Regions from separate parts of the Homo sapiens genome. Here region 2 is linked to region 1. The links come from fine-mapping of genetic effects on gene expression. A gene starts in region 1. The other region holds a variant in brackets. All regions are shown on one strand. Distances are from middle to middle. Region 1 holds the start of TAB2 (TGF-beta activated kinase 1 (MAP3K7) binding protein 2). Region 2 overlaps TAB2 (TGF-beta activated kinase 1 (MAP3K7) binding protein 2).

Region 1 (4,000 bases):
TTATAAACAAGGATATTCTCATGCAAACATATTCAGGAAATTTAACATTGATACAATTCTTTAATCTACAGCCCATATTCCAATTTCGCCAATTATCCCAATAATGTCCTATATGACATTTTTCTCCTCCAGTAAAGGATCCAGTTCAGGGTCACATATTGCATTTCGTTACCATGTCTTTAGTTTTTTCTAGTCTGCAGTCTTTGTCTTTTATGACATTGGTCATGATTTAAAAATACAGGCTAGTTATTTTATATTTTATTTTCCTCTACTTGGGTTTGTCTGATGCTTCCTCATGACTACATAGCTCTAAGTGCACTGCTGGTGCAAGGATGTATTTGTTATATGTACCTTCTTTGCCCCCCACTGGTTTTTAGACTTGACCTGCTCAAACCTATAATCTATAAAGCATTATATTTCTATTAAAATACGTACATGTACATTCCATAAATTTTTTTAAAAATTTGCATAAAATACATCATCCTACCATTTCAAAAGCAATTGTTGCCTCTGTACTTTATAATGGTTTCAAAGACAAGTGAAATTTACTTAATGGATTCAGTTTATCTAAAATTATTTAATCAATTATTTTATCATTGAGTATGGAAATAATTCCTCAGAGAACTGCTGTAAAGCGTTAAAGTTAATGATTTCTTCTCGCCAGTAAAACTAGAATCTTCCCAATTTTGTAAATCCTAATTTTACTTTTGCTTCTCTTAATGGTATCACCAATGGAGAATAATTAAATTCCGATATTGTAAATCATAAGTACTTTCAGCTTTTGAAGTGGCAAAGTATTTGAATTGGTGCTATAGCCCAGACTTCAGGTATTTTCAAAGGATGAATGAGGAAAAAGGAAGTGGGGAGAAAGAACTTTTAACTGTGAGGAAGGCTCTACTATTTAAAAGATGGTTTAAAAAAAATTCTCACTGTAGCTACAGTGCTCACACTGGAAATAAAAGTATAAAAATGGTCCTTTAGGATTTTTCTCTGGAGTAAGAATTGTTTCAAGGAAGAAACTGCCAGGGATATGGACATTTTGGACAGGGGCAGAAAAATGCCCTAGTGTTTTGGACACCATGGAAGCGCTAGAATTTTTAAATAAATATTTCACATTGTGAGAAACGTCTGAGTATTAAACACGCTTTTTTTTTCCCTAGGGGGACACTAAACAAATATTTATTTAAGGAGGTAGAAACTTGAAGGCCCCCCCTCTTCCCGCAAAGCTAGTCTTTGGCTCTGCTTCTAGGACTTCTAGGAACGTGCAATTAAAATAAAATCGAAACAACGAAACCCTCGCAGCATTTAGATTTCTTTTTTCCCCCTCAACTGCTCAAGAAAAGTCAGAAGCCGACACTTTTTCCAAGTCTCGAAGTTGCCAGTTGTGAGGCTCCCAAGACGTCTCCCGCACACCCTAGGGACGATTCTGCACGGGTCCCTCCCGTTAGCCGGCGGTGCGATCCGGCTCCAAGGGGGTGTGTCCCGGACCGCAGCGACCCGGCGCCAGCCTCCGCCGCGGGCCCACCTGCTCCTCTCGGCCGCCGCAGCGCCCCGGGGTCCGGCCGGGCCCCCGGACCCCACCCGCGCGGCGCCGCCGGCCGCCCGGCAAGTCCCGCCACCCACTTCCGGACCCGGCCAGCCCCTCCGCTAGGTGCAGCTGGGACGCGAGCTCAGTTCCTTTCTTCCCTCAGCCCAAACTGCTAGCGGCCCCCGTGGCGGGAGGTGGAACCCGCAACCTACCCCCAAGGATGGGGGGCCCAGGCGGAGAAAGGGGGTCCCAGCCCTCCCCGGGCTGCCCGCACCGGCACCCCCCTCGCACGGCCCCAGCGGCGGCCCGCGTCCTCCCTCCAGCCCTAGCAAGACAGGCGTAGAGACTGCGAGTGTCGGGGGAGGGGTACAGGTCGGAGGAAGAGCATCCCCGGGCCGCAGCCGCAGCCGCCGCCGCCGCCGCCGCCTGCTGCTCCCCCGCCGTTCGGCTAGGGGAGGCCTCGTCACAGCCGCCGCCTCAGCCGCGGCTGCAGATCTCGCGGTGTTTGCCGGCCGCCGCGCCGCCATATTGTGTGACAGTATTTTGATTTGGACTGGGCTGGCGGAGCCGCGGCGAGAGCGAGCGAGAGCTGGGGGGGTGGGGGGAGGGCAGGCGAGCGCGAGGGGGGTGGGGGCAGAGGGAGGTGGGGAGGCCGAGCGAGCCGGAGCTGAGGATTGGGGAGCGGCGACGCCGCCCAGCCGTCGTTTTTGATCTGCTGCAGCCGCCGGCGGGGCGACCCAGCCCGACCCCCTCCCCTCCCCCTCAGCCAGGAGCGGTGGCGGCGGCGGCGGCCGGAGGGAGTTGGCGGCGGCGGGCGAGCGGAGGGGGCTGAGCGGGGAGGGAGGGAGGGCTGAGGTGTCCCCCCTGCCGGGTGGAACCGGAGGCGGCGGCGGCGCTGGCGGCGGCCGTGGTGGCGGAGGCGACGGTGGAGACGGCTGCCCTAGTGGGAGAGGCGGCGGCGGCGGCGGCCGAGGAGGAGGAGGGGGAAGCGGCGGCGGCAAAGGGTAAGCGGACAGCGCTGCCGGGCCTCGGCGGGATCCCCAACCTGGCTCTCCCCTCATCGCCCCGCACCCCCCTCCGTCTGGAAGGGGCTCTGCCGCCTCGCGAGGCCCGTGCGGGGCGTTCGCTTCTAACTTGCACTCTTCCTCCCTCCGCCTCTTTCCTTCCCCCAGTGGCGTGGCGGAGAGGGAGGCCCCCCGAGTCCCCCAGTCCGGTGGGGGTGGGGAGCATCGGGCCGGGCCTGGGCTCCGGGGCGTCCGTGCGGGGGGGGAGGGGGAGCTTCATTGGAATCGAGCGCCTAGGAGAGCCCCGGGTGGGGGAGGGCGCAAGGGGCTCGGGAGGGCCCCTCCCTGCGTCGGCGCCCCTGACCCGCCCCCAGGCATGTGTGAGGTGGGGGCGGGGGAGGAAAAATCTCCTTTTGGGGAGCCGAGGTCTAGTTAAAGATGACTCAGGGGCGGGGGTTTTGGGGACAGACACGGGGCAGTTATGTGGGGGTCGGGCGGGAGGGAGAACATCGTTCCTTTGCGGATCTTGGTTTTCTGCAGCCGTCTTTGAAGTGGGGGGCAAGCCCTACTATGAATATGTGGCCCCTTAAATTTCACTGGATGTTTCTGGTTTTCGGTCCCATCAACCTCAAACCCTACGATTGTGGTTGAGTCAGGGAGGCTGCAAGGGTCTCTTGGCGGTGCTGAACAGGTGACAGGTGGATCTTTCTGTTGCTGATGCTGTGAGATGTTCAGGCACAGTCGTACACCAAAGTGTCAGAGACCGTGTGAGTTTGTATTTATGTGTTTGGCCATGTTTCATTCCATATATAGTATATTTGAGATGTTAGGTTTCCATTCTTCAAGTCAGCTTAATTGTTGTGGATAAATTCTTCAAATGTTTCTGATAAGAGGGTTTTCCAGGAGAGCGGAGGGAATTTGCAGCCTCACAGGGGTTTCTCCGTAGTTCACGAAATTTAGGCCCCCAGTGCAGGCTGTTGAGTACCCTTATTCATTGGAAAGTTCTTGAACGCTAAGATCGTATTCAGAGCAACTGTACGGCAATATAATTTTGCATCCATTTTGTCTGTTTTAGGTAAGTTTGTAAAGTGTCTAATTTTGGGGTCAGATTGATTCACATTTTAGAAAAGGAATTTCGTTTCCGCTTTAGCATACTCTAAAGGTTATGATGATCATTATGCAATTCCAGATTTGGCCGGGAATTTTAGTGGGCATGGAATAGAATATTTGCTTTCAGTTTTTTCACTTCTGCTTACTACACTGTTCATACAGTAGCAGAGTATTGACACCTTTTAAAAAATATCTTTACATTCTTTGTAACAATGAAATCACGATTTTAAACTTTTGACGGTTTGAAACTGTAAATTTTGAAACCATGGCAGTTTGTAATAAAGGAAGACTTGCTTTTCTTTTGTTGTAGGCTTTGGCTGAGCATTTTAATTAGAAACAATGGGAAGAATTGTTAGAT
Region 2 (4,000 bases), 63 kb after region 1:
CCCATAGCCAATATAACATTCAGAATATTTCAACAGGACCTCGAAAAAACCAGATTGAAATCAAACTTGAACCCCCACAAAGAAATAATTCTTCAAAACTGCGTTCTTCTGGACCTCGAACCTCCAGCACTTCCTCTTCAGTCAATAGCCAGACCTTAAACAGAAATCAGCCCACTGTTTACATAGCTGCCAGCCCCCCAAATACGGATGAGCTGATGTCCCGTAGTCAACCTAAGGTCTATATTTCAGCGAATGCTGCCACAGGAGATGAACAGGTCATGCGGAATCAGCCCACACTCTTCATATCCACAAACTCTGGAGCATCTGCTGCCTCCAGGAACATGTCTGGGCAAGTGAGCATGGGTCCTGCCTTTATTCATCACCATCCTCCCAAAAGTCGAGCAATAGGCAATAACTCTGCAACCTCTCCTCGAGTGGTAGTCACTCAGCCCAATACGAAATACACTTTCAAAATTACAGTCTCTCCCAATAAGCCCCCTGCAGTTTCACCAGGGGTGGTGTCCCCTACCTTTGAACTTACAAATCTTCTTAATCATCCTGATCATTATGTAGAAACCGAGAATATTCAGCACCTCACGGACCCTACATTAGCACATGTGGATAGAATAAGTGAAACACGGAAACTGAGTATGGGATCTGATGATGCTGCCTACACACAAGGTAATATGAATACTAAAGGTGGGATGGTTTTCCATGCTGGGCTTGTTGGTGTGCATTTGATTTCACAACAGAAATGGATGTTAGCATTGTTATTTCATTGTTTAAATATTGCCCCAAATGATGTTATTGTAACATTTGAGAGTATTATATGTATATACATTTTAATTTTAATTTTATTTTATTATTATAAAACTGGAAGTTTGAGTAATTGGGTTATCAGCTCTTCAGAGTAACCAAATCTGGTTAGTTGGTTTGTTAATGTTTATAACACTTTCTTTTCAGTTAATCTTATACCTGTGGTGATGCTGACTTTCTCTTTAAATTTTCTGTAAATAAAAATTCCTAGAAATAACGTTTTAATAAGCAACTAGTTGACTCTCTTGACTAATATGGTAAATTTGCCTTCTTTGACCAGATATTTGAAGAATAAGTAATTCTTGGCTGGGCATGGTGGCTCACGCCTGTAATTCCAGTGCTTTGGGAGGCCAAGATGGGAGGATCATTTGAGCCCAGGAGTTTGAGACCAGCTGGGGCAACATATGGAGACTCCGTCTCTACAGAAGGTTTTGAAATTATGCAGGCATGGTGGCACACACCTGTAGTCCCAGTTACTCAGTAGACTGAGGTAGGAGGATTGCTTGAGCCCAGGAGTTCAAAGGTTAGAGTGAACTGTGACCATACCACTCTGCCCCAGCCTGGGCAGCAGAGTGAGACCCTTCTCTGGGGTGGGGGGAAATTCTTCATTTTTCTAATACAACATTTTAGTCTTATTTTATATTAAGTCTATTACTGCGTAAGTATTAGAATAATTTACCTCAAAGAGAAGTTTGAATCTTGTTCCTGATATTTGTCCCTTTTATTCTCCCTTAAATGTTGGTTAATATATTTCTTTTTACATGGAATTATAAGGACATTATTTTCAAATCTTTCAATTGATTATCCTTTTCTGAAATAGA[CTA/C]TTTGATATTGGCATACTACATTATGTCTATATTAATTCAAATAGAGAAATTTCTGTCATATGTTTTATCTAACCTCTTAAGTTACATAATTTTCAGTAGGACTGTTAAATAAATACATTTAGATAAGAAGGTGGAGGTTATTCATTTTCTTGAATATTTATGCCAGTTTGTAGATGAACTGAGCCTTTTAGAGTAAGGGCATATCTTAGTCATATATGTATCTGCAGTGAATCATTTCATGTATCAGCTGTAGGTTGGAAAATACTATAACATCACCCTCAGGCAGCATGCAGCCCCTACTGTCACTAATATCCTCATCCTTTTTTACATTTCTGATACAGTGATTTTACTGCTGAGTCTCTTAGGGGGTCCTAATTGCTTTGCCTTATTTTATGTTTTAAACAGCTACACTAGTGATTCTTAGTCCAAGCTGGGTTGTGGTCCTTTCGAATTCCAGTATCATTCATGGAGCTTTAAAAAATCAGCTGGGCACAGTGGCACCCGCCTGTAGTCCCAGCTTCTCAGAAGCTAAAGTGGGAGGACTGCTTGAGCCCAGAAGTTTGAGGTTGCAGGGCACCACTGCACTCCAGCGTGGGCAACATATCGAGATCCCTATCTCAAAAATAAAGTACGCAGGGCTCTGCCCAAACTTAAGTAAAGTGAATCCTAGGTATGCGTGTGCATGTATTTGTGTGTGTGCATTTTAGGGGTACATGAGTGATTTCAATTGCCCTAGAAATTGTGTTAAAACTTTTATTTTCCATATATCTGTGATTAACTACAACCATTTTTGTTTAGTTTCAGCAGTTTATAAATGTTATATGCTATTATTTTTTCCACTTACAACTTAATTCTCCTCTTCTCCCAAAGTCACCTTCTCTTCCTGTCCTTCCATCAAAACATCAGGTTTCCTATGGTTGGATAGTTGCTGATTCTTAAGTAGCAAATTTTTTATGAAGATAATTTGATAAGGGAAATTTTCAAGTAAAGTAGGCATTCATATTTAGTGATATTAAAAAGATATTCATGTTTAACTAGAATGTGAAAATAAAGTGTTTCTTAAACTTGCTATCTTCAATTCCCCTCCTATTCTTTTTTTTTTTTTTTTTTTTTTGGGACAGGGTCTCGCTCTTTCGTCCAAATTGGAGTGCAGTGGCATGTTCACAGCTCACTTCAGCCTCAACCTCCTGGGCTCAAGTGATCCTCCCACTTTAGCCTCCCTAGTAGCTGGACTACAGGTACACACCACCACATCCAGCTAACTTTTTGTATTTTTTTGCAGACAGGGTCTCCCTATGTTGCCCAGGCTGGTCTTGAACCCCTGGGCTCAAGAGATCTGCCTGTCTCAGTCTCCCAAAGTGCTAGGATTACAGGCGTGACCTCCACACCTGGCCTGTGACTTCTTACTTCCCCCATCATCACTACTGTGGTCTCAGCAATCATCACCTTTCAAATGGATTATTGCAGTGACCTACCCATTCTCGTCCTTGCCTCCTTGCAGTCTTCTTTCAACTCAGCATCCAGGGAGATACTGTTAAAAATATGCATCAGATCATATCACTTCTCTGCACATGATCACTATCTATTGCACTCAGAATAAAAGCTATGAAGCCCTACAGGATGAGCAGCTTCTCCCCCCAGCTCTTTTCCTTTTGCTTACCACCTGCTCACTGTGTTCCAGCCCTCCTGGCCTTCTTACTCTCTTCCTTAAACATAGAAGGCAAACTTTAGGGCCCTTTTATTTGCACTAGTATTATTTTTTAGACTAAAACATTGAAGAACAGATAGATTAAGTAACTTGTCAAAGGACAAGTGGCAGAGTCAAAATTCTAACTAGAGGCTGGGCACGGTGGCTCACGCCTGTAGTCCCAGCACTTTGGGAGGCCGAGGTGGGTGGATCACAAGGTCAGGAGTTCAAGACCAGCCTGGCCAACAGGGTGAAACCCCATCTCTACTAAAAAGACAAAAATTAGCGGGGCGTGGTGGCAGACGCCTGTAATCCCAGCTGCTCGAGAGGCTGAGGCAGGAGAATCGCTTGAGCCCGGGAGGCAGAGGTTGCAGTGAGCCGAGATCATGCCATTGCACTCCAGCCTGGGTGACAGCAAGACTTTGTCTAAAGGAAAAAAAAAAAAATTCTAACTAGGAAGTTAGAGAAGCCCACAATGTTAACCACTATCATATAATGTCTTTCTTTCCAGATTTTCATAATAAACCCTCTGGAAAGATATTTTAAGTGTATCTTGTAGCTTCACTTATAGCCCATGGTACAACACTGTGGGGGCCACATGTGCCTCAATTTGAGAGGGATGTAGCTAAAAAACCATTAATTAAAAAAAGGCAACCATAGGGAAAGATAACAC

Evidence for each region. PIP is the estimated chance that this variant, and not a neighbour inherited with it, causes the effect. A credible set is the group of variants that fine-mapping cannot tell apart.
Region 2: its variant is the best candidate, but not a certain one, in a credible set for the expression of TAB2 in aorta (GTEx, PIP 0.69).

The regions. Positions count from the first base shown.
Region 1 is chr6:149,315,484-149,319,483 of GRCh38, forward strand. TAB2 (TGF-beta activated kinase 1 (MAP3K7) binding protein 2) reads left to right here and starts at 2,229. Exons shown (of 7, transcript NM_001292034.3): 1 at 2,229-2,532. RefSeq lists silencers at 1,372-1,441, 1,492-2,031, 2,122-3,021 and enhancers at 3,112-3,291, 3,452-3,561.
Region 2 is chr6:149,378,838-149,382,837 of GRCh38, forward strand. It overlaps TAB2 (TGF-beta activated kinase 1 (MAP3K7) binding protein 2), which reads left to right. Exons shown (of 7, transcript NM_001292034.3): 3 at 1-681. Among named protein-coding and RNA genes, the nearest start is that of SUMO4, 19 kb to the right of the region's middle. RefSeq lists an enhancer at 1-933. The variant CTA/C (reference allele first, on the strand shown) is at 1,638.